Homo sapiens: one gene and its partners. The protein of the gene in region 5 interacts with the protein of the main gene of each other region in a pairwise test. Each region holds a gene or a part of one and is shown on either strand. Other genes may lie near its edges.

The links.
Region 1: the proteins of DSCAM (region 5) and SEMA4D interact in a two-hybrid assay, tested with the Homo sapiens proteins (one large-scale study listed by BioGRID and IntAct).
Region 2: the proteins of DSCAM (region 5) and SUPV3L1 interact in a two-hybrid assay, tested with the Homo sapiens proteins (one large-scale study listed by BioGRID and IntAct).
Region 3: the proteins of DSCAM (region 5) and ZNF202 interact in a two-hybrid assay, tested with the Homo sapiens proteins (one large-scale study listed by BioGRID and IntAct).
Region 4: the proteins of DSCAM (region 5) and SGSM3 interact in a two-hybrid assay, tested with the Homo sapiens proteins (one large-scale study listed by BioGRID and IntAct).
Region 6: the proteins of DSCAM (region 5) and WASHC4 interact in a two-hybrid assay, tested with the Homo sapiens proteins (one large-scale study listed by BioGRID and IntAct).
Region 7: the proteins of DSCAM (region 5) and CPNE5 interact in a two-hybrid assay, tested with the Homo sapiens proteins (one large-scale study listed by BioGRID and IntAct).

The regions. Positions count from the first base shown.
Region 1 is NC_000009.12:89,379,925-89,383,113, forward strand, and holds part of SEMA4D (semaphorin-4D isoform 1 precursor), read right to left. Parts: exon of another isoform or gene 1,504-3,189; intron 1,423-1,503; coding exon 1,250-1,422; intron 1,175-1,249; coding exon 1,131-1,174; intron 1-1,130. UniProt on the Homo sapiens protein: Cell surface receptor for PLXNB1 and PLXNB2 that plays an important role in cell-cell signaling. Regulates GABAergic synapse development. Promotes the development of inhibitory synapses in a PLXNB1-dependent manner.
Region 2 is NC_000010.11:69,183,234-69,186,733, reverse strand, and holds part of SUPV3L1 (ATP-dependent RNA helicase SUPV3L1, mitochondrial), read right to left. Parts: intron 796-3,500; exon of another isoform or gene 748-795; coding exon 670-747; intron 292-669; coding exon 184-291; intron 1-183. UniProt on the Homo sapiens protein: Major helicase player in mitochondrial RNA metabolism. Component of the mitochondrial degradosome (mtEXO) complex, that degrades 3' overhang double-stranded RNA with a 3'-to-5' directionality in an ATP-dependent manner.
Region 3 is NC_000011.10:123,731,661-123,735,160, forward strand, and holds part of ZNF202 (zinc finger protein 202), read right to left. Parts: intron 12-3,500; exon of another isoform or gene 1-11. UniProt on the Homo sapiens protein: Transcriptional repressor that binds to elements found predominantly in genes that participate in lipid metabolism.
Region 4 is NC_000022.11:40,369,403-40,373,393, reverse strand, and holds the start of SGSM3 (small G protein signaling modulator 3), read right to left. Parts: upstream 2,801-3,991; 5' UTR 2,706-2,800; intron 1-2,705. UniProt on the Homo sapiens protein: May play a cooperative role in NF2-mediated growth suppression of cells.
Region 5 is NC_000021.9:40,840,659-40,844,158, forward strand, and holds part of DSCAM (cell adhesion molecule DSCAM isoform CHD2-42 precursor), read right to left. Parts: intron 1-3,500. UniProt on the Homo sapiens protein: Cell adhesion molecule that plays a role in neuronal self-avoidance. Promotes repulsion between specific neuronal processes of either the same cell or the same subtype of cells.
Region 6 is NC_000012.12:105,110,731-105,114,230, reverse strand, and holds part of WASHC4 (WASH complex subunit 4), read right to left. Parts: intron 3,107-3,500; coding exon 2,967-3,106; intron 16-2,966; coding exon 1-15. UniProt on the Homo sapiens protein: Acts as a component of the WASH core complex that functions as a nucleation-promoting factor (NPF) at the surface of endosomes, where it recruits and activates the Arp2/3 complex to induce actin polymerization, playing a key role in the fission of tubules that serve as transport intermediates during endosome sorting.
Region 7 is NC_000006.12:36,836,645-36,840,910, forward strand, and holds the start of CPNE5 (copine-5), read right to left. Parts: upstream 2,801-4,266; 5' UTR 2,734-2,800; coding exon 2,639-2,733; intron 2,139-2,638; exon of another isoform or gene 2,052-2,138; intron 1-2,051. UniProt on the Homo sapiens protein: Probable calcium-dependent phospholipid-binding protein that may play a role in calcium-mediated intracellular processes. Plays a role in dendrite formation by melanocytes.

The DNA of each region.
Region 1 (3,189 bases), on a different chromosome or scaffold from region 5:
GTGCCTAGTGTCAGCTCTTTGAATCAGACACGAGACGCTTCTGCTAATGGCTGCAAGGAAGACTGGCCTTTCAGTGCATCTCAGCACTCTCCTCCTGCCTAAACTTTTCTTTTTTTTCTTTTTTTTGAAACAGGGTCTGGCTCTGTTGCCCAGGCTGGAGTGCAGTGGTGCAATCACAGCTCACTGCAGCTTCAACCCCCCCAGCTCAAGGGATCTTCCCACCTCAGTCTCCAGAGTAGCTGGGACTACAGGTGACCACCTCCAGGCCTGGCTAATTTTTGTATTTTTTGTAGAGACAGGGTCTCACCACGTTGCCCAGGGTAGTCTCGAACTCCTGAGCTCAAGTGATCCTCTTGCCTCAGACTCCCAAAATGCTGGGATTACAGGCATGAGCCACTGTGCCCGGCCAGCTTTTGTTTTCTTTTTAGAGTCTGGGTCTCACTTTGTCACCCCAGGCTGGAGTGCAGTGGCATGATAAGCTCACTGAGCCTTGAACCCCTGGGCACAAGCAATCCTCCTGCCTCAGCCTCCCTAGTAGCTGGGACTACAGGCGTGTACCACCATGCCCAGCTGCCTAAACCTTTCTTAGTCTGATGACAGCTGTCTTGTCAGGGTCAGGAAGACACAGAACTGAGGGTCAAGTCTGCCTTTAGCACCCTGGAAGGTGGCTGCTGGGGAAGGGGCATCTGGCCTGATGCCACCCCTCCCTCTGGGTGTGGTGCTATTTCAGACATCCACAGGCGGGTGAATCCCAGGTGGGAGCCCCAGGGGAAACACCACCCCAGCCCTTACACTGCCTGAGGATTAATCACTCATGGGCTCCTTTCTCCCCATTTATAACAGGCTTAGGTTTTGCTTAATGAGCCCCAAGCTAAGCAGAAAGAAAACAGGATGGTTTTGGAAGGAGACTGCTTCCCAGTAAGCAGATACACTCTAAGTGGCTTCAAGTACTCTTTCGGCAAGAAAAAAAGACAGAGAAGACCACGAGTCTGCTACAGAACACTTGACCTCTGTTCCGAGTGGAGAAAGAAAAACAAAACACACACAAATGCCACAGAACTGAAGCACCGTGAAATGGCTACAAGACCTCGCCACTCCCAAAGGAAATGGGACGTCGAGGAGTCACTCACCCGGGCACACAGAAGCATCGCCGCTCATCTCCTGAATCAAACCCCTGCAAAACAACCGGCACGTGTTATTCACCCACACACATGGGGGACATCCCCAGGCAGCGCATCCCGCCCCATACCTGCTGGGGCTCTCGGTCTGGTGCAGAGCCACGCAGGTCGCTGTGGGCGGGCTCCAGGCGCAGTAGGGGTCCCGCGCCAGCACACAGTCCTCGCAGGTGCCGTGCTTCCCACAGAAGGCCAGCGGGGCCTGGACCACGCCCGAGTTAGAGCCAGCATAGACAAACCTGTTGCCCTGCGTGTATGAGACAGAGAAGAACTAGCATCAGGCAAGCAGGCATCCAGGAGCATGGCCTCTGCTTCTGCACCAGTGTGTGGGAAGCAGCCAGAGTGTACCTTCAGGGGACATTGCAGTAAGGAGGAGAGGTACTCAGAACCAGAGGCAAACAAGGCAGGTCTGTGACCTTCCTGCAGAATCCACGTGCTATGTCAGGGCTCACTGGGCCTTAGGTCCAAATCCCTCTCTCCCCTGTCTGGGCACCCACAGGTGCCTGCCCTCCAGCAAAGCGCTTCTCTGCACGTGTTTCTCTTAGCCAGTGGGGAGGCTGTTCAGTCCCCACCTCCAGATCTCCTCCCTGCAGCAGAGGATGCATGAGCCTGGCACTCCCGGTCATCTTCCCGGCCTCACTATAGGTGAGAAGGGGCTGCAGCCAGAGGCTGAAGCACACCACCTCGAAGCCCAACCTCGTCCCCCGAGCCAGAATGTGAGCACCTGTGGGCGGGGAGCCTCTCGTGAGGGTCTGGATCCAGCAGAGGCCTAACATAACAGGGATGCCAAACGGACGACATGCAAAGGATGAGGAGATCGTGATACAAAACATAAAAAAGGAACAATGCCTTTTGCTTTTCACTTATCTATATGTAAAAGGGAAGAGCTCACAGACGGGAAGTCAACCTCCGAGCTCCAGAGCAGCCACACCCACAGCAGAGGGCAGGTGAGACTCTCCCACCTTCTGGGACACTTGGTTCCCAGTGACACCAGCTTCAGGTCCATCCCATCAGCCCACCTGGCACCAGCAGTGCCCAGCACACAGGCATCCAGGGCTGCTGACTGCTTTTGAACGGAACTCAGCTGGAAGGAGGGTGCCCCACATGCAGTGCACCCACCTGAAGCTCGGGGGCGTGCAACAGACCTGGAGGTGGCCCGTGGAGCGCGCTCTCTAGCCTCTGCCCAGGGCATCTGCCTCAACAGCCTGGGGACACCTTTTGGTTAACAATACAAGATTCCCAAATTTACACATGACTTAGTGGTTTACAGTCAGATGAAACACGACCTTCATCCTCAGAGGATACGCTCGGAGTCAACTTCAGAGTGTGGTTGGAAGATCACAGGCCCTGATGCCAATACAGGAAGCCCCAGGCCACACATCCAGCTGTGCGGACACAGACCCACGAGAGAAAGGGAAAGCCCCCAAGGATGGAAACTGTGATAATACACAGCAGAGGGAACCTGGCCCGCCGCTGGCCTCACAGCAGCAGCAGCAGCAGAGACCTGGGCAGATGAGGCCATGTGTGAGCCACGTTTGTGGGAAGGATTGAGGATGACATCCCAGATCACAGTTCGGGCATCGCGCGGCTTGTGGAGGTGGCGGAAACATTCTCTGGCAGCAAAGCCAAGCTGGGTAACTTCCAAGGGACAGCTGGTCCTGTTGGGTCCCGCGGGGGGCACCTGCGAGGTGGCGTGAACACCATGCAGTGCAGAGCAGGGTGCCCTGGGTGGCCAAGTGGGGCCCGCCTGACTCCTCACCCCAAAGAGAGGCTTGAGGGTAGCTGTGGAGGGTGGGGTGGGCTCTGGGGGGCAAGGCCTGTCCCAAGGGGATCCAGACCACCTCCTGCACCCTGCGGGAGACTCAGCCCCAGCTTCCGCTTCTCCCGGATGGGGCTGGGCTGCAGCCCAAATGAAACTAAGCTGTAAAAACTAAACGACGCCACACAGAGACCAAGGGATGACTGTGGAAGGGAAGAGGGGACAGGGAAGGAGGAACTGGTCGTCAGGACAGCC
Region 2 (3,500 bases), on a different chromosome or scaffold from region 5:
TCAGGGACCCAATATAAAAGCAAACAACCTAGAAGTCATCCTGTGAAAGCACTGAATTATTTACAGAGGATGTTACCAGACCCACTCTAAACCAAATAAGCCCTTCTAGAGAAATGAGCATGAAGTATGAGAAGAAATAGAAGGTATGTTCAATAGGATTTTAAAAAGTCTCTAAACACTTGCCTGCACCGAAGCAAATATCATTCAAAACAATGTGAATGTCCACATCCAGGGAATGAGACTGCATAATATAATTTCTAAAGCTTATGAAAGCTTGGTGGAAGAGACGAGCTGTAGAAACACAAAATGAAAAGATGTAAGGTGTAGTTCTCATTTTAAAAAGCACACAGACACACCACACCAAACTCATCAAAGAGTCTTTTTTTTTCTTTTTTTTTTTTTTTTTTTGGCAGTACAGCTGGTTTATTATGATCTGGGCTAAAACTGAAGTCCTAGCACAGCATGAAGGAAGGCCGCAGCTGCAGCTCCTCTGCCGTGCAGTATGGCTCACCAGGTGAGCCTCGCCAGTCTCCCACTCAGCCAGAAGCAAAGAGCAGGGACGTGTCTCCAGACTACAACAGCCAGGTCACATGAGGGGTCGTACAGTCCTGACCAAGCTGTACCGTAAGAGGTAATAAAATACCTCTATGAAGATGTTTTGGGCCTTACCATCAAGTCCATAATCAGCACCCAGTTTCTGAATTTCTTTCCTCTTGTAAAATTTGTCTAAGACCTTCTTTACTTCATCTAGAAGAGAGATGTCAAAATTTAACGTTTCCTTATCTTAGATAAATGCTGAAAAAAAGCAAAAGAAACTTGAAGCAATAACACTAAAGGCAGCAGTCTAATGAGTGTTGCAAGAACTAGAAGGTTTTAGTCGATCCTTCTTTATGAATTCATATGCGATGGGAGTGTTAAGAAAAATGATCGAGTTGGCCGGGCACGGTGGCTCACGCCTGTAATCCCAGCACTTTGGGAGGCTGAGGTGGGCGGATCACGAGGTCAGGAGATAGAGACCATCCTGGCTAACATGGTGAAACCCCGTCTCTACTAAAAATACAAAAATTAGCTGGGCCTGTTATTGGGCGCCTGTAGTCCCAGCTACCCAGGAGGCTGAGGCAGGAGAATGGCATGAACCCGGGAGGCGGAGCTTGCAGTGAGCCGAGATGGGCCCACTGCACTCCAGCCTAGGAGACAGAGCGAGTCTCCGTCTCAAAAAAAAAAAAAAAGAGAAAAATGATCGAGTCAAATAATGCAGCACCCTGTTATACCATAGAGGAATGAGCAATGCACTCTGGGATGAGAGGCAGCCTCAAGCCTTCACCAGGCCACTTATAGGTAGAGAGCCACACTGTCATTCACTTATAACGATTCTGCACATCCAAACAGTGAGCAGCTAAAACACATCCAGAAAGACAACCAATATAGCAAGGACCAGATCCTCATGCTTAAGGAAGCCACGCTGATGTTAAGTTTGAGGATGATGATTTCAGGGATAAAAGATTACACTTGTTTTGTGCTAGATGGCATAACTAAAGTCAGTGGGAGCAGATTTCAGTGGAATTTATACAAGAACTTCCTAACAATTAGAACAGTGAAAAGTGAGAGCTCCTTGCCAATGGAATTACTCAAGCAAGGGTTAGATGACTGTCAAGGGTGACGGCAGAGAAATGTCTATGCTATTGGGAGATAACATGCCACTATGAATCAATAATCTTAGAGGTAAAAGTATTTTAAACTAATCAAGCTGAGATTGTATTATGGTTGTATATGTTAAAATACTACAGCATTATTCAATAAACATTTTACTGACTCAGTCACACACTATGTATTTCTAGGAGGAGAAGCCACAATGAGGACACAGCCTTTACCCATGAAATTCAGAAAGGCCAAGTGACCTGTATTTTTACCTTTCACAAATGTGCCAACCACATTTTCACACAGTCCAACACACACAACACTCATTGAAGAAATCAAGCCTGAACAAAGCATTCCACTAATAAAACTGTTTGACAGAATGAGGAAATTTCAGAATCACTAGATCTGCCCACAATTAAATATGAGATACACATACACACACAGTGTGTGTGTGTGTGTGTGTGTGTGTGTGTGTGTGTATTTATATTTCAGATCACAGGCAGATTTCTGGGTCTCTGTTACTTTGTGCCGGGTAGGAACAACAGTTTCTTTTTTTCTTGGAGACAGTGTTTCACTCTTGTTGCCCAGGCTGGAGGGCAATGGCGCGATCTCAGCTCACTGCAACCTCCGCCTTTCGGGCTCAAGAGATTCTCCTGCCTCAGCCTCCCAAGTAGCTGGGATTACAGGCATGCATCACCATGCACCATGCCCGACTAATTTTGTATTTTTAGTAGAGACAGGGTTTCTCCATGTTGGTCAGGCCGGTCTCGAACTCCTGACCTCAGGTGATCTGCCAGCCTCAGCCTCCCAAAGTGCTGGGATTACAGGCGTGAGCCACTGCACCTGGCCAACAGTTTCTTGGTATCAAGGGTAGAAAAACCAATGACAAATAAAAGATTGGAAAAAGGCACATGCCATCATTGCTTGGGAAAATTCTGCTGACCTATAAACTCGATACAAACTAAAGACAGATCACATTTATTTAGAATTAACCTATTTTCTGTGACTAATACTACGGTGTTATATAAGATTCATGCTGCTTTACTCAAATTAAAATGCTTCCAAAATGTGAAATTTCTCATTATGCTAAGTAAAAGAAACCAGTTACAAAAGACCAATACTATATGACACTATAAATATGAAATACACAAAACAGGCAAATCAACAGACAGAATGTGGATTAGTGGTTATCTGGAGCTAAAAAAAAAAAAAAGACACTGGGGACTGGGGAACTAGAGAGTGACTTGCTAACAGATATCAGGTTTCTTTTTAGGGTGATAAAAATGTTCTAAAATGAAATTATGGTGATGATTGTACAATCCTGCAAATACACTAAAACCCAGTGAATTATACACTTTTAAAGGGTGAGCTTTCTAGTATGTAAATTAAAATTGTATCTTTCTTTTTTTATTTGAGACAGGGTCTCACTCTTGTCACCCAGGCTGGAGTGTGGTGGTGCAATCTCGGCTCACTGCAACCTCTACTACTACCCAAGCTCAAGCAACCCTCCCACCTCAGCCTCCCAAGTAGCTGGAACTACAGGCACACACCATCATGCCTGGCTAATTTCTGTATTTTTTGTAGAGATGGAGTTTTGCCATGTTGCCCAAGCTCGTCTTGAGCTCCTGGGCTCAAGCGATCCACCCTCCTGGGCCTCCCAAAGTGCTGGGATTGCAGGCACGAGACACTGCGCCCAGCCTAGTCTTTTTAAAAGAACATTCTGACTGCAGGTAGAGAATAGAATGAAGGGATCAAAGGCATATGAGGAGACACATAAGGGGCTATATGTGCAGTCCAGTCAAAAGATGGAAGCTGGCAATTTAGACTAAGCTGGTTGCAGTGGAGAATGAGGGAAATGAATG
Region 3 (3,500 bases), on a different chromosome or scaffold from region 5:
AGTTTCTCTGTCTATAGAAGGGAGATAATAATGGTTTTTATCTAATAGGCTTACTGTAAGGATTAAATGTATTACTAAAGCCTATGAGCATTAAATGTATTACTATCTTTGCTTAGAAGAGTGATGGCACCAGCTATTATCTTTCTAAATTATAGTTCCAACTATATTACTCAGTATTTTAAAACAAAACCTTTTTCATGTTAGTAAAATCAGTTCCAAAATCCTGGGAATGACACGAAGCTCTTTACAATCAGCCCCCAATCTATTTTTCAAGCTTCAGATCCTACCTTTTCCCTGTATCACCTGGTTATAAAAAATGCATTGCTGATCTCCCTACAACAGGGTGTCTTTTCAGTCTTCCATGTCTTTTTGAAGGTTGTTCCTTCTGCACAGGCTACTCTCCACCCTTCTCCTTTCCACGCTACATGGTGTGTTCTCTTTCTTTTTAACGGGTCTTGTCTTTATTCCCACAATTTACAGCTTAGGTCCCTCTCACTTCTCATCTGGATGACTGCAACTGCCTCCAAATGTGAGCTATCTGCCTCCAGATTTGTCACCTTCACGTACCCACTATGATCAGAACGAGCTCTCTTGGCAAACGTGCTCATGTCCCTTTCCTATCTAAGATCCTTCCATCACTCCCCGCTGTCTTGTTAAGTGAAATACAAACTTCAAACATTCTACATTAGGTTGACGTTCATCTTGTTATTCTCTTCGCCCTCCTCTCCAATCCTTTCAGACACACACGCACACACGTGTGTACATGCAAAGCACACAAGAGTCCCGTGTTCTTTAGCTTTTGAATATGCTGTTTCTTCTGATTCTTTATCCTTGGTTAGGTTAAACTTTAAATTTTTCAAGACATAAGCTCAAGCTTCATGTCTTCTGAGATGTTTTCTTTGATCCCATTTCCCCTACTCTCAGACATAGTTAGAAATCACCTAAGTCCTCCCGTAGTGACCTGGGCACCTCTCTATCCCAGTATTGGTCATATTACATAGCCATCGCTCATCTTTCCTGTGAAACTCTTTGAGGTCAGAGACTATTTTCCATCAATCTCCAATACCTATAATAAAGTGCACAATAAATGCATTTAAAATGAATAAAACTCTACTCCAAAGCTTCTTCCTATGGTAACAGGAAGAACCATTGTTTCCTCCATTATGCTTTTACTATCTCTTGATTATTCACCATATCCTGTTAATTCCAACTTCCAAAAAATGTCTTTCGAATCCATCCATCTCTTCATCTCTACTGCCATTTCCCGGTTGAGCCATTATGACCCACTAGAAGGTATTCATAGGAACTTTAAAAAAAATTACAATATCCTCTGCTCCTAAACGGCACTGGCACGTAACAGGCACGGATACATTGGAGAGATGACTTAGTTCAACCTCCATGACTGGTTTTCTTGGTCCTGTCCCCCTCCAGACCAGTGTCCACAAGCAGCTTAAGGGCTCCATCATTTCTCAACCTTTTTGTGCTATACTACAGTTGCCTCACATCCACATTCAAGGTTATCGATCCACTCTTAATAGCTGTGTCTCATCTATTGTTGCCCATCAAATGAGTTTACAGTCAATGATCACATTATCTTCATTCTTTCTCAAAACGCTTCTAATTCATGCTCTTATGACATTTTTTTCATTACCCTCAGTCACTTGCAACATACTTTCACAGTCTATCTTGGATAGCTCCCTAATTCCTAGATCTTCATGTGTAATTTTTCCTCTGCTATCTCTACCTCATGGTGATTTATTTTTTTCTCAAGTGGCTTGTAATTTTTTTATTTTATGTCCATCTTTTTACTTTGGGAGTCCTGAGAGCCCTGGATTTAAATGTGAGCCCCTTGAATGTAATTTCATTTGTTTCTTCCTAAGTGCTAATGGTTTCAATGATCTTGGACAGTTTGCTTTTTTAAGACTCTCCCTCTGTTGCCCAGGCTGGAGTGCAGTAGTACAATCATAGCTCACTACAGCCTGGATCTCCTGGCCTCAAGTGATTTTCCAACCTTGGCCTCCCAAAGCACTGTTACCAGAGGCTGAGCCACCATGCCTGGCCAAATCAGTTTTTATGTTAATTTCTCAGGGTGTTCCTGAATAATGCTTTTGTGTATTATTTAGATCGATGCCTTCAAGTAATGTTTGGCCTACCCAAGGTTCTGGAGAACCCACTTCCTTGCACTTTTCCTGGGTCAGTAGGACGATTTTCAAAGGTCCAGGTTTGCAGGCTGCTTAATTCTGTAACTTTCACACAGCGTCAGCTTCCCAAGTCCTATCTCCCTGTTGGAGTACCAGTATTAAAAGCTCAATCCCTAGAAACCTTATTTTGGTTTGGAATCTCACTGCGCCATGGTAAAGTCAGCTTATACTTATTTTTCTAGTGGTTATTTCTTTTTCCTTCTGGAACCTATGCGCTTTCCTTTAGCTTTTGAGAGAGAGAGACAGAGAGAGAGAGAGAGACAGACACACAGGGAGAGACAGACACACAGGGAGAGACAGCATGGGCTGTCCTGTTCCTGACAGGAACAGGATTTAATAATGGGCAGGAGGCCCATCCACATTAGCTCCACCTGCAATACTCCAAGTAGGTGAGTGGTGAACTTCCTAACATACAAAATCTGCCAATGGCTTCCCAGTGACCTTAGGTTAAAATTTAAACTTCTTAAAATGTGATACACAAAGACCTTCAAAAGCTGGTCCCTGCTACCTCTCCTTCCTTCCATGACTGCCACTCCCATTGAAAGCCACTGCAAGAATTACTGTTCTTTCTTTTCTATACCCTCCCTGGGCTTTCCTGATGCTGTTCACCTTGTCTGAAGTACCCTTCTCCACTCTTCATGTGGTTAACTCTATCCATCTTTCAGAGCTCAGTTTTTCCAAGATGCCTTCCCTGGTCCTCCCAGATGATGCTTCCACAGGAACTTGTATCTCCCCCTATCACAGCATGCACATGTGTCTATTTTTTGTGTCATCAAAACTGTTCATCTTCTGTTGAACTCACTGGACTGTAAAGCTCTGAGGGCAGGGATATGCTGTGCCCAGCTCGATGCCTGGCACACACCAGGCACTCACTTCACATTTGATGAATGCAGAGAATGCTTAGTAAGGTTTTAAAAGTCTGTTTCCAGAAGGATAGATACCATGTTATATTAACCCATATTCATCCATAAGTCTAGCAAACTGTGTGCTGGATAAAGGCATACATAGGGAAAAAAACATTTATTGTTTGGATTGTGAGTAAAACAGAATTCTCTTAGTGGTTCCCAAGATGATGGAACCACAACTCATCACAAGGAATCTTCAGGTTGCACCGGGAATAATCCAAATGCAAGTCACACAACACTTGGCATTTGAAAAAAAAAAAATCATTTTCCATTGAGGATTTAAATCAATTTTAATAAGCGCAAAATCAGACATCAAATAAATGGAACTACAATACTAATTATTTATCCAGACAAAGCTTTCCAAACCCCACCCCAACTCCTACCCCTGGAAGAC
Region 4 (3,991 bases), on a different chromosome or scaffold from region 5:
GGAGTAAATGGAAGAGAAGAATGTAGAGTCTGCTTCTTAAGGACAAGTCTAGAAAGGAAAAGCAGGAGAAATGGTAGTAATTTGAAGGGAAATATGATCACAGGAAAGTTTCATATATTTTTAAGAATGAGAAAGACTTGAACACAGTTGTTGATAAGGTAGTACAGCACAGACAAAAGAGCAGAGTTTAGAGTCAGGTAGACTTAAATTCTGGCCCTGTCACTTACAGTGACCTGTGACAACTAGTGTCTGGTAAGCAGAAGGCATCCAATAAGTGGTTTCAATGATTATTACTACAGGTAGGAGTGGTGTTCTAACCCCTCCCACATATCTTGTGCTCCAGTCTAGATTCCCTAAGTCTGTGTATAATATGTGATGGCAAAGAAACAGGATCTTTTTTTCTTCTGTAACACTCATTGTGCTATTCCCATTTCCTTGTGACAGTCTGCATGAGCTCATGAATGGCTGCTGTGGAAAATTACTGACGTCACCAGCTGAATAACAGGCTATCTGGAGAGTAAGCAGATGAAACTGATGTTAAATTATCAAATGTACAAGATTTTGGGCTCCTGCCAAAACCTTCATTGAGAACTAAGAAGAGAAAAACTGAAAACACACAGAGCTTTTTTTAAGCTTCTGAGCCAGCAGGCTGTTCCTACATCCACTCCAGGCATAGAAAGATGGCTGTAAAATAAAAGAGATGATTATCTCCTCCCTTCCCTTCTCAATATTTCACCCTAATGTCGGGTTCATTTCTGTGAGGTTCTACCCGAGTTCACTTTTCTATCAACCTGACATGTTTCCAAATTCACGAGGTATGCGTTTTTATATTGAAGCAATTGTTTGTTTACAGCCTTTTAATGTTCTGGTCATGGGTTATGTTAACCTATTACCCATATCTGATCAATAGACACCTCACCCTCTCCCCTCCCAGACCACACACCTCCACGCTTAAAAAGGGACAGGGAGGGCCAGGCACGGTGGCTCACGCCTGTAATCCCAGCACTTTGGGAGGCCGAGGCGGGCAGATCACGAGGTCAGGAGATCGAGACCATCTGGCTAACACGGTGAAACCCCGTCTCTACTAAAAATACAAAAAATTATCCGGGTGTGGTGGCGGGCACCTATAGTCCCAGCTACTCGGGAGGCTGAGGCAGGAGAATGGCGTGAACCCGGGAGGCAGAGCTTGCAGTGAGCCGAGATCGCGCCACTGCACTCCAGCCTGGGCAACAGAGCGAGACTCCGTCTCAAAAAAAAAAAAAAAAAAAAAAGGGGGGGGGGACAGGGAGAAGAACTAAAGCTCAGGCTACTATGATAATTAGGGATGAAAAAGCTACATTCACTTAGGATTATCAAAAGCCAGGAAAGATATCTATAGAATTACAAATTAATCGGGCCTGGCGCAGTGGCTCACGCCTGTAATCCCAGCACTTTGGGAGGCCCGAGACGGGCGGATCACCTGTGGTCAGGAGTTCGAGACCAGCCTGGCCAACATGGCGAAAAACCCCGTCTCTATTAAAAATACACAAATTAGCCGGGCGTGGTGGCGGGCGCCTGTAATCCCAGCTACTCGGTAGGCTGAGGCAGGAGAATCACTTGAATCCGGGAGGCGGAGCTTGCAGTGAGCCGAGATCATGTCATTGCACTCCAGCCCGGGCAAGAGCGAAACTCCCGTCTTAAAAAAAAAATAGAAAAGAAAAGAAAAGAAGAATTACAAATTAATCACCAAGAACAGAAATAGTGTAAAAACAAAGATGTAATTCAACTGTTTAGAGTGCAGAGATAATTGGAACTAAAAGAGCAAGAAAAGCGGGAAACATATGTACCTATAAACCTAATCACAAACCTGTCACAAAAACTACGAGTAAACGAGTCGAAGTTGAAAATGAGTTTTTGTGAATCAGAGTCTGATTTGACTTGAATTTACTAAGAAAGAATAAGAAAGGTGTAGAACATTCCAGGACATCTCTATCCCACCGCAAAACAAAAAAGAGCCATCAACCCACCACAAACGTGCAGCGTGAGACTGGAAGATACACTAGTCACCCAGTCACTGAAAACAACCTTTGAAACATCTTTATTTTTCTTTCCAAATAAAAAAGAGCCTAGGTCAGTAAACTAAGTATGAGAATAATTTTCAAAATTCCAGTCCTAACCACACCGGATGATTCTGGCTAACGTATGCCTCAGTTTCCCCCGTGCTAAAATGCAAACACACCGGTGTTCCGAGTCTCGGGCCTGGATCCGAGCCCGGGTTCTGCACCTGGATCTGAATCTTAAAGGGAAAACCGCAAGTTAAACCTGAGGAGGAGTCTGCAGCTGTCCCGGTGCCAGAGCCAGCCAGGCTCTTTTTAGAAAGCCCCCCGCCTCAGGCGCGGTTTTCGTAAAACCGCTCCCGGCTGCCAGCGCGGTGGATTCCGGCTGGCGCCCCGAACACCTGAGGTGGCCTCGGCCGTCTAGGGGCGGCCGCACCGGAGGACGCAGCCGACCTCCCCGCCCCGCCGCGTCCCCGGCCCCCATTCCAACGGCGACGCGAGCAAGGTCGGCCCGGCGGCTCTCCGGCCCGAGGCGGTGCTTCTCTCGTGGGCGCCTTCGGCCCATACGACCCTCGGTCGGACAGTCCGACCACAGCCGCCCCGCAGCCCCCGCCTGAGGGGAACTTGTAGGCGCCGGTGGGTCTCCGCTGACTCCCGCCCCGCACTCACCTGCCCCACGGGCCACCTCAGCGCCAATCCGGGTCGGGTTAGCAGCTTCCCCACTCGCACCCAGTCAGCGCTCAGCGGCGCCTAAGCGCACGCGTGGCGGGGCGTGGCATGGGCGGCCGCGGGTCATGCTGGGGGCTGTAGTCGTTCCCGCCCACTAGGCGGGGCGCGTCCAGGGGCTTTGCGCCCCCATCCCAAGGCCAGCATGCATAGCGATGATTTCTTCGTCTGCACCGCAGCCTGAGAAGCTTGGGACAGTATGGTGTGGACCAGCAGTCAGGGTGGTGGGAGATAGACGCTGCAAATAACTTGCTAATTTTTTTTTTTTTTTTTTTTTGAGATGGAGTCTCGCTCTGTCACCCAGGCTGAAGTGCAGTGGCGTGATCTCGGCTCACTGCAACCTCCACCTCCCAGGTTCAATCAGTTCTCTGCCTCAGCCTCCCGAGTAGCTGGGATTACAGGCGCCCGCCACCACGCCCAGCTAATTTTTTTGTATTTTTAGTACAGTATTTTTAGTAGAGACGGGGTTTCACCATGTTGGCCAGGCTGGTCTCGAACTCCTGACCTCAGATGATCTGCCCGCTTCAGCCTCCCAAAGTGCTGGGATTACAGGCGTGAGCCACCGCGCCAGGCCGGAAAACGAAATTTTCTGAGTACCTTCTGTGTCAGATTCTATGCTGTGCAATTCCCATCTCACCAACCCTCACATCCACCTAGGCTTCATATCACCTTTCTAGGGACTCCTAACCCTCGTGCTTCCACTAAAGCTGTGTTTACAAACATCAGGCTCTCCTGGTTCTTAAATGAAACTGAGCATCAGCCAGGGAAAGAGGGCATTAAGTGTCCAGGTGTCTGACTTCAGCTGAGCAGACATTTCATCAGTTGCCCCAAGTTCTGCCCAGAACCTGACATCTGGGTAGTTCTGATGCTGGAGTCCGTGTGAATTTAAACCAATCTTAAAGAAAATACAACAGCCTGGGTTAACAGAGTGAGACCCTGTCTCTACAAAAAACAACAAAAAATGAACCACGTGTGGTTGTGTGTGCCATAGTCCCAGCTACTCAAGAGGCTGAGGTGAGAGGATCGCTTGAGCCCAGGAAATCAAGGCTGCAGTGAACTGTGGTCATGCCACTGCACTCCAGCTTGGGCGACAGAGCAAGATCTTGTCTATATATATATATAAAAGATAGATATATGAATGTATATTATATATAATATATATGAATGTATATTATATATAATATATATGAATGTATATTTTATATATATACATAAATGTACATTTAATA
Region 5 (3,500 bases):
TGCCCCAAGCCACAGGCGTTTCTGGAAAATAAACATTTCTACCGTGATTGAGTCACTACGACAGAAAAAGGTGGGTAGAGCAAAAGAGTCCAGTGGTTTAGTCAGAATGCAAGATAGGGACCAGGAGAGCAAGTCCAGGAAAGCAAACTAAGAGGGGGAGCCAATCAGCTAGAGGCAGAAGAGAGAGGTGGACGGGAGGGAGGAAGGTGGACAGGAGTTAAGGAGGGGAGAAAGGCTCTGCCTATCACTTTTTCCTTTCACTCCGTAAGGAACATCATCTATTTCCACTACTCCATACCATGTGCTCTGCTCTGTGCTAAGGACACGCTCAGGCTTCGCACGCATTTCAGACTATGGAGGCTCCTGTCTAGCTAGTGAGAGAGGCAGTCACTAGCCAAATCAGCATCACCTAAATGCAGGCGTAACGATTACCACAGACTCCATCAAGGAAACAGCCAAGATTTTTAGAAAAAGGATAATATGGAGGGAACTGATTTTCAGGAGCAGATTTGTGAAACCCAACCCTTCTGAACGTCCTGGTCAGAAGCTGTCTGACCTCTGAACCAAAATCCTGTCCCTGCTTCCCTCCTGCCACCTTGACAGACCTTGCGTCACCTGCAGAAAACATCCGTGTGCTCCACCCTTTGAATTCAGAACGACATAGTGGATACTCCGTGGGGCTGCTGGAATCTTCCATTCCCACTGCCTTATCTTAACCCATAGATTCGGCAAGGGAAATGCAACTTTGAATTTTCTGGCATTTTCACAACATTGAAGAAAAGAACATAAATATAGTTGGGGGGAGGGGCGCGGAGAGATAAGATGAGCATTTTTGTGCCCAGGTCTTTGGAACTTGAAGAGTTAACCCCCCAGTCCAGGGGAACAGGTGTTTTCCAGTGGGCCTGGGGGAGAGGGAAGGGGGCTCCCGGTCCCGGAGCCTTGCCTGCGGAGATTGATGGACTGCGGAGGAGCGGGCACGTCAGCATCACCCCTGTCACCATCAGCAGGAGAAGCGGCGGCTCCTGGAATGACATTGGAAGGTCAGCCAATCAGGCGCGGAGCTGCTCCCGGAGCTGCCACCTCCGAGGCGCGCGCCACGCCGGGGTTCCCTCGCGGCTTTGGAAAGGGGGTGCAAATGCACCCTTCTGCGGGCCCGCTACCCGCTGCAACACCTGTGTTTCCTTTCTGGGCACCTTCTAGGTTTCTAGATATTGCTGTGAATACGGTCCTCCGCTGTACAGTTGAAAACAAAGGCTGCTGGACCTCGCCTGACCTGCGGTTGCCTTTGCCCGGTTCCTGTTAGACGAACTCTACGACGCCGGAGTTTGGGCGCAGTGAACTTGAGAGATCGTGGGGGAGGCGTCTTCAGAAGAAAGCCCCTGACCATCTGCATGGAGCAGTCCTCCCTCGGTGGCGGCTGGGTTTGCTGGCTCTGCTGAAGGCTGGCTGCAAGAGTCTTGTGAGGTTTGCCGCCCACTAGTGTCCTATGGCGGGGACACAATCGGCCTGCAGGTAGCACCACCTCCCTATCTCCCAGGCTGAGGGTGCGGGCACCAAGGCCCAGCGTGCACTTCAGCGCAGCAGCCAAGAAAATGCCCACACGCGCTTGTTTGTGTGGGCACACCCCTGGGTGCCTGCCCTGCTCTGGAGAGGTGGGCCACGCATGGAAACCGAGGAAATCGAAGTGCTCATTTCCGAAATACTATTGAATGCACTGCCTAATGCAAAATACATTCTTTTTCACTACCTATTAATTATTTATGAGCCACATTCATAATCTTACCCGTAGAATTCAGCTAATTTTACGAAACCTGGATGCCACATTTTGTAAATGCATCCACTTGATAAACCCATCCTTTTATTTTGCAAACATAAATTTCCAATCTACAGTGTTCACAGGTCTTTCTTTATAAAATGACCTCTCTCTCTCCCTCTCTCAATCAAGTTTTAATACGCATTGAATTGAGTCTCTTGTCGAAATACTCCGTGCACCTTACTCCAGACACATCTAACATAAAATACCTTGCCAGCTACCCGGAGGTCCAGGAATTGGGGATTAGAATTGGCAAATATTTTAGTCAAAATTAGTTCCCCTACCAGAATGCTGTATTGCGCTGGTTCTGCCCCCCGTGACTCACTGATCCCCCGAGGCAGCAAACCGTGGTCACACCAAAATGACAAAGGAGAGAGTCAAAAAGTGGAGAACGATCCACTGGCATTTATTGAAGGTCTGCGTGGCATTTTGTTTTCCTACAGAGGGCATCTTGGAGGGGCATGCAGCTTAAGTTAAAAGGCCTCGGAATTTAGGTGAACCCTGAGATTATGGATAGCTTTTTAATCTGTTTAATAAAGATGGGGGAGAAAGGGAAGTGGAGGCAGCCCTGAAATTGTTCACCTGATAACATTTCTTCCTTACATACATTTATGTGAATTAAATAAAAATCACCTTTGAAGTCCTTAAGGTGCATTTGTATTTACAAAGGTCTGCTTCTAATTAAATAAAATAGCAAGCGTGTGCTCTGTAATTTCCTATCAAGTGAATGGATGAAGCTCAAAGGTGCTGCATACTCATCTTCTCTTTAATGAGCACCTTCTTACTCCCAGCACCCCACCGTCTCTAATCTCCATGACCCTCAGGCCCCATGAAAGCGGATGCAGTAGAACTGAAAATCCCACAGCTCAGGAAAAGATGATGTCAGGAATGCATGCATGTGTGTGTGTGTGTGTGTGTGTGTGTGTGTGTGTGTGTGTAAAAACAGAGATGCCAGGATACTAGCAAAACTATATTACATATAATAAATCTAATTCTTCATCATTCTGTTTGTCTGAAGGCCTGGCTCTTCTTTTAGCAATAATTTTAAACTAGAATGTGCTCTGGGGTTAAAACCAGGAGAAATGGTAATGAAACACAATGCAGTAGGAAGCTTTGCTGAGAAGACACCGAGGGACGTGTGTGGGTGAGTGTCTGCACATACGTGTACCTTGGCTCCTTGCACTGTAACAGAAGCTCGCGTGTATTTCCAGAACATTGCAGAACAAATTGACTGCTTTAAAACACGATACTGCACCTCATCAGGTGAGGTCATTCATTTAAGGGTTTAACCTATGAAGGGCCTGGTCACTGACTTCTTCTTTTTTTTTTTTTTTTTTTCAAAAATACTGCCTGCAGCCTGTCTAGCAACCATACTTTTATTAAGAAATAACTGTACTTCTGATACATCAATAAGAAAAATATTGTTGTCTACTGTTAAAATGCAGATGTATTGTGGGCTTATTTTAATAGCCCCAAATATTAAACTACATAATCTTTTACAAATGAAAAAAAAAAGTTATCATGTCAGGCATTTTGATGCTTGAGGCCTAGCAATAATCAGTTTAGGTATTAGAATTCATCAATCTTTTATCACACACATTCAGAAATTTTTCAAAGTTGAGGTATAACAAAATATGACAGTTGTTGACAAAAATATTCTCAATTTTTTAAAGTTTAATTCAGATAG
Region 6 (3,500 bases), on a different chromosome or scaffold from region 5:
TTCATAAGGCAAAAGCTACAGAAACAAAGGAAAAGAACATTTCTTTTAATTTGAAAAATAACTGAAATTTTAAAAACACAAATTGAGGCTAGCTTTATTCGACTTAAACTTGTGTTAGATCCTGTACTCAACATTAGCACCATATCAACTACTTCATCCAAAACAATCTCATTAGACAACACGTAAGGAAAGAAATGGCCCAACATGACACAATCACGACTCTACTTGTCCTATGGAGCATAAGGTGGCTGATTATGAGTGCAGTATAAGAAAATGCAAGGTAATAAGGTAATAGTAACATTATTAAACTCCATTAGTTATGATCATGGGGAAAAACCTTTCATCATTTTTGAATTTTCTATGCAGCCACAAATTTAATAAGATATTGTAGCTAAAGGGTCAAAATAAATTAAGAATGAAACAAGACAGAAAATACATCTTTTCTTGTATAAATCCATGCTCAGAAACACTTAAAATAGTATGTGGAGTTCACTCCTAAAGCCCGTTCAATTTCCACCTCTTCCTGATCATTGACTATATGTGATCTATTTATCAAGTGAAATCTCAGATCTCCCTTCTGGTTACATACTAACTAACTATTTATGCAAGTAAGTTATTATATACCCTTTCTCATTAGGTTGTAATTTTTGTTTACAGAGGTTTTATCTGAGTTTGTGGTTTTTCCCAAAATACTAAGAACCTTGTATAGTAAAAACAATAAAATAACTGCCCAATAATAGAACTTAAACAGAGGTTCCGAAGAGAGCAACTGCGGAGATGGAGTCTGTCATATAATAAGATTGTAAAGATTAGAAAGCTTCTGTAGGGGAAGATAAAAACTAAGAGATGATTTCACCCTTTTATAAAATCTGAGAGTTGAGAAAAAAAACAGATTTTATAATCCTATCTAGAAGAGGCCCTTAAAGCCCAACAGCAAGTCTTAAAAAAATCAACAAGTATTACTTAATGGCGAGAAAGCCCAACAGCATCTGTTTAAAAAATCAACATGTATTACTTAATGCCAAGTGACAGATATATGAAACTTATTACCCTCAGAGATAGTACAGGTTGAGAATGACAGTTTCCTAGTAGAGTTCCTATAACTTACATACAATGATTCTCACAGAAGTGTTGAGGAACAAAAAGAGACAATTACAAATTTGGGGGGGGATGATTTTTAAAGTAAGACTAAGTCTATCCAGCCTGCAAGAAAAGAAGTCAAAGGAAAGTAATTTCAGTTTACAAATATATAAAGTATTTGTGAGGCAGTTCAGGGTATTGGATAAGGGCACAGGCTCTGGAGTCAAGCTGCCTGATATTCATTATTTAACTAAATGTGTCACTTACTTGACTAAGTTACTTAACTTTTCTATGCCTTAGTTTTCTCATTTACAAATGGAGATGACATTGTATCTACTTTATAGGATTGTGGTGGGAATTAAAAGTCAATACTTGTCCTATAATGCAATACTAAAAAGATAACCCAATTTAAAAATGGGCAAAGGATGTGAACAGACATTTCTCCAAAGAAAACAGACACATGGCCATAAGCACATGAAAAGATGCTCAACATTATTAGCCATCAGAAATGCAAATCAAAGCCACAATGAGCTTTCACATTCACTAGGAAGAATATAATCAAGACAATAAAGGCTGGCAAGGATGTAGAGAAACTGGAACCCTCATGCAGTGCTGGTAGTAATGTAAAATGGTATAGCCATATTGGAAAACATTCTGGCAGTTCCTCAAAAAGTTAAACATAGTTACCACATAACCCAGGATTTCCACTCCCATATATACATATGTATAAAATATACACACAATGTACACACATTTTATATACAATATACTTATATATGTCTACACAAAATCATGTGCCCAAATGCTCATAGCAGCCAAATAGTAGAAAAATCCAATGTCTATCAACTGATGAATGGATAAATAAAATGTGGTTATCCATTCCTTACAATGGAATATTATTCAGCAACAGCAAAAAAAGAAAGTACTAAAAACATGTGACAACATAGATGAGCCTTGAAAACATAAGTTAAAGAAGCCAGCAACAAAGGAGCACATATCGTATGATTTCATTTATATGAAGTGTACAGAGGAGACAAACACATAGAGATAAAAAGTAGATTGACTGGTGGTTGCCTAGGGCAGGTATGCCATGGCATGAACTGGGGGTTGATTATCACACGGTACATGGTTTCTTTTTTGGGGGCTGAGAACGTTCTAACATTGACTGTTGTGATGGTTGTACAACTCAGTGAATATGCTAAAAACAACTGAATTATACAATTTAAATGAGTGAATTGTATGATATATGAATTATATCTCAAGAAAGCTGTTATAAAAACAAGTCAGTGTGTGACTTAGGACAGTGTGTAATACACAAGTGCTCAATAAAATGTAAATTATTTTTCAAGTGGTAACAAACTAATTTTAAAGATAAAAGAAATATTTCAAAATGGAAAGAGTAATGTATTTTATACATTAAAAAATTACTCACACATTAACATCTATATAGCATGAGAGAACTTTTCAGAAATGGTGAAAATATTCTCTATCTTAATTGGGATATGAGTTACAAGTGTTTGGCAAAATTAAGAGTATCTGCATTTCACTCTATGTAAAATAGTCTCAATCAAGAAAAAACAAAGCCTGAATATTCTATCCAGCCCTCATTTTCTTAATAATGAAAATCAAAGGCAAGCTCAAAGACTTGGAGTTTGTGTCATTCTTTGACACTAAAGGCTGTGTGTTTGTCATTCTTAAACAGAAAACACACACATTTAAAAAACATCTGCATGGCTTAGAGAAAAGGAAATTAACAATTTTCTCCAACTTTCATTTTGTTCTTAGATTTCAAATAAAAATACTTTTTCCATTTTAAAAAATTATGTTTTCAGGATATAGTATGTCCAGAAAATATATACATATATTTTTAAAAAATCAAATCAAACCTTTAATGCTATAGGATCAAGATTGAAATCCCAAACATCTCCAATTGAGTCATCCAGAGCGTCCTCAATTCTTCTCAGTTGAGAGGTATACTCCTCAAGAAATTTCCCATAATTCTTAAGTTGGACTTCGGCATGAATTTCTAAGTTTAAATTTTAAAACAGTATGTGATAAGTGCAAGTAATGAATTGCAGGACATTTACTTCAAATAACCTCAAAAGTCACGCAAAGCACTGTTAATTATTACTCTGGAATGTCTGGACTTCCTGAAAATAAAGTTCCAAAGTTAAACAACAATTCAGCTTTCAATCTTCTCTATACACGAAATAATTTTAAAAGCAGTAGATGTTACCATATATAAAGTTACTACCTTAAAACCCTAACATATTATGAAAAAGCCACTAGCCCATCTACCCCCATAATAGAGGGCTTTGAACCAATCTGAAAAGTGCCTTAAACAATTCAATGTCCTGATTCTATCTTTTAGTCATGAACAACTCTTTTGCAAAAACAAATATTCATGATCTGAAGGTGAA
Region 7 (4,266 bases), on a different chromosome or scaffold from region 5:
GGGAGGGACTTGACTTTAACTGGCGACCATGGAGTGAAGAATATGCTGGAGAAAGCCACTGTCTGCATTTCTCCCTCCTCCCTGTGCTCCTCTCCTCCTCCTTTTCCTCCTCCTCTTTCTCTCTGTTCTAGAACCTGAATAGTTGGGCCTGGCTGAGGCAGAGAGATGCATCTACAATTTCCAGGCCACCCAGACTGTTTTCTCACCTCCCCTCTGTTCTAAGTGACTGCTCCCTCCTCATCTCTCCCCACCAAAACCCACTTCCCCCCACCTCTGGCTTTCTGGAGAACATGAGCAGGCCCCAGGTCAGGGCCTTCCTCAGCTCATGGATCATGTCCCCCAAAAGGGTATTGACCCAGGGTCAGCCCCAGAACCACATCCCCCAGGAAGGCCTCTTATGCAAGAGGTTTGAGTCCTTTGGACATCTTTACTTCCAGAAAGCAAACAGGAGGGGCCAGGTGCTACCGCCTTCCGGTGATCATTGTAGCTACTTATTGAGCACCTACTGTGTGCCAAGCAAGTGCAAAGTAGCTTGCTAGGTGCTTCATGCTCCTCCACTCCTGCAAGTTAATTCCTCCAACAGTATTTGGCAAGTGCCAGGCACTGCTCTAAGCACATGAGCTACCTTGGTGAACAAGGTTTCTCCATGAGTACATGCTGCTTATTGTTTGTACCTGACAGGTGGGGGAAACTGAGGCTTAAAATTTGCCCCAAGTGGTGAAGCAGAGATTCTGTTTCAAGGTATCTGACTCCAAAGCCACACTATCTGCCCTCCATCTCCTTTCCTCTCCACTGGAGTAGAGGGTGCATGGGTCTGACTCAGGGTGGGAATCCCTGCCCTCAAATGCTTACACAGTTGCTTTGAGAGGGGAGGGATGACGTCTGCACACCTGAGACGTCTCAAGAGGTTTCATCCTCAGTATGTGAGTGACCCTGTGGCCCAGGCTGAGTACCTAGGGCCCACGGGACACAGAAGACAATGATTTGAGCTGTGTGTCTCATGGGTGAGAGGATGCCTGAAAGTGGGGAGCGTGAGGCCAGGCTTTTCAGGAGTGGGGGGATCATGAACTTGGGGAGATAAAGGAAGAGTGAAATCTGGATGGGGAATGGGCTGTTCAGAGGCTTGGAGGTGGGAAGGATCCCAAGACAACTGAAGATGACAGGCATGATTGAAGGCTGGGAGGGAGTGCCAGGCGCAGGGATGTGCGTGCAGGAGAAGGGTGGGGAGGCCGTGCTGCTTTTGATGGCTGAGGAGGTGAGACTGGAGCTAATGGGCCATCAGGAATCTCCCAGCAGAGTAATGACAAGATGCAAATGGCGTTGGGAGATGATCCTGACGGCATGGTGTATGGGACCTGGGAGCTATCACAGGAGCCCCCAGAGGGCCTGGCTTAGGGGGGAAGCTACGTTCAACCAGACTAGCCTTCACTGCCACTTATCCCCAAGTCTTCAAGAGAAAGTCACACTGAGTCCTTCCCTCCTTCACGCCCCTGCCCAGACTCTCCAGCTCTACCTACACCTCATCAATGCCACAACTTTGTAATACAGGACTGGGGGGCAACAAGGTTACCTCTCATGGAGGGTCTGACCAAGGAGCAACCTGGAAGAGGATGAGATGGGTGATTTCGAACAAGGGCACAGCCAGGGCTCCAGAAATGCTGTCGGTGATCTGGGGCAGGGGGCATGGCCTCTGTGGGGGAACCTCAAAGTGGGTGATGCTTGCGTGGCAGCACATGATCCTAGGCCAGCCACAGAGAGACTGAACTAGGGAAAAATCCCCCTTTGCCACCCATACCCTCTTACTGCCAGGGGCAGCCTTCCCCTAGCTAGGAGAACCTGGGGTCGACCCAGCTCTTAGACAGAGAAGTTACCCCCAAACCCTGTGTGACATGAGTGAAGATTTGGGCGTGGTAGCCCACAAAAATATTCCCCCTCCTCCTCTGTTGGACTCTACAGTTTCACAATCAGTGTTCTATTCCTTTGGCTTAAGATTTTTGACCCAAGTTATTTTTTTAATGGTGCCACTTTAAGTTGTTATCATGTATCCACACCTTAGTATGAATGAGTCAATCTGATCCTTTTCCAGGAGTCGATTTCGTTGTTGATAGAGATGAAGGAAGGCTTTAAAATCCTAGAGTCTAGGACAGTGGGGTGGGGGAGACTGGTGAGGGGAGGATCAGGATGCTGGGGCAAAGAAGGGGCAAAGAGAGAAGAGAGGAGGGCACAGAAGGGAGAGGGTGGACGAGCCTGGGAGGGATGGGGGCAAATCACTCACTTCGTGATTTGGGGATGGGGTGATCAGAGATAGCCTGAGCAGAGACCGTAGTACAGCCTTTTACCAACTCCCTCTCCCCACTTGGGTGCCTGGACCCCCTGTTCCTGTGTCTTCATATCTCCTCGATGCAACAGCCTGGAGCGCAAACTTTCTGGGATATGACCCCAGCCTGGCTTCCTATTCTGCCGTCGCCACCCGCAGCTGGACAGGACAGGGGCTCTTGGCAGATCGGCAGGGGCGCAGTCCTGGAGACCAGGACACTCTGGGAAGGGGGCGCGCGGAGGTTTAGGATCGAAGCGGCAGGGGCCGCGGGGCTCTGCGTCCAGGGCCGGGGCAAGGGGACCCGGCCAGCGGGAGGCTCACCTGCAGGACACGGTGATCTCCACCTTGGTGGCCGGGATGCTGCCCGCCAAGGAGTCGAACTCGCTCAGCGACGCCATGTCCTCAGGCTGCTCCATCGCCCACCGCACCCCCCACCCCAAATTAGTCAATCCCTGCGCGATTCACGCCTCCTCCGGAGCGACTGGAGCCCTGGGCTCTCCCCCAACTCCAGAGCCTGGGCTGGGCGGCAAGGGGAGGAGAGAGGAGCGCGAAGAGGGGGCGTGGGAAGTGAGAGAGGGAAGAGGGCGGAGGGAGCGGGGGCCGCGGATCGAGGAGGGGGCTCGGGTGACGCCGCGAGGAGGCTAGGGGCCCAGTGGGGAAGGGCAAGGAGCCCAGGGAGCGGGGGCACAGCGGGGAAGGCAGAGAGGGGCGCGGGGAGAGGGGCTCGGGGAGAGGGCACCGGGAGGGAAACGCGGAGTCGTGGAGAGGGGCACCAGGAGAGGGACGCGCGTCTGTGGGCAGAGGTAGAGGGGATGCAGAAGACAGGGAGAGGGGCGTGAGGAGCGGGAGGCGCCGGATGGGGCGCTGGCGGCGGGGGTGGCGGGGCGCCGGCAGCGCGGAGCCCGAGCGCCCGGGCTGCGCCGCCTCTCCCTGGGTCTTGGCGCCGGCGGCGACGGGGCTGAGACGCGGCTGCGAGCGCCACCTCCTCGGCTCGGGCTTCGGCTCCGGGGCGCCCGGGCTGCGGGAAAATCAAATCTGCCCGAAGCCGCAGCCTCCCGCCGCCCGGGAACGCCAGAGGGGGCGCCCGCAGGGGCCGGGGCGGGGCCGCGGGCGGGGTCTGCGCGCAGGGTGAGTGTGAGCGTGTGTGTGTGCGCGTGTGTGTGTGTGTGCGCGCGTGGCGGGCCGGGGGACGCGGTCCAGATGCTGGGGACGTGGCGGGTGACAGCAAGAGGTGGTCCTGGTCGCGCGCATCTTCATTTGCGCCCGCCCCCTCTCACCACCCCTATCTCCCATCAGGGGTCTCCATCCTGGGGGAGGGGGAGGGTTATGGGAACCAACGGGCGCCTTTTTGAGAAAGGTCTATGCAGGGTTGAGAGGGGGCATAAGTGGGAGGGAGGTGTGCAAAAAAGATCCCCTCCCAGGGGCTTGGGTGTGGAGGGTCTCTGCTGAGTGTGCGCCCTACTCGGGGGCGGGTCTCAGTTCAGAAACAGACCCTACATCTCCTTCTGGGGAGGTGTGTGGGGGCGACCCCAGTGCCAGGAGGGACTACCTCGGTTTCCCAGTGGCCCAGGTGGGGTCGGTGCATGGGCGCCTCCCCCATCCGTGGTTCCCGCCAGCCGCGGCCTCGCCAAGTCGGCTGCCGAAACCACGCGCCAGCGCCCTTCCACTCCCCCGCCCGTCGTGACCACACGACTGAGCCAGCCTCCAGGTCTAGAAGCTCCTGCCACCCAGTCTGGTGGCAACCAGACTGGGAGATCGGCCCGAGCTCCCTGGGCTTCTATGCAGCCAGCACCGAGTAGGCGCGTGCTGTGTGCCTGGCGAGCGAGGGGAGAGTTGGGACACCTCTCCTGCAGTCCTCTTCCCAGCCAAGCCCCTCGCGATCCCCCGCCCTAGCCCAGCCTTGCCCTCCCGGGCATGAGGTTGCAGCGCAGAGGCGTCTCCCTGAGTAA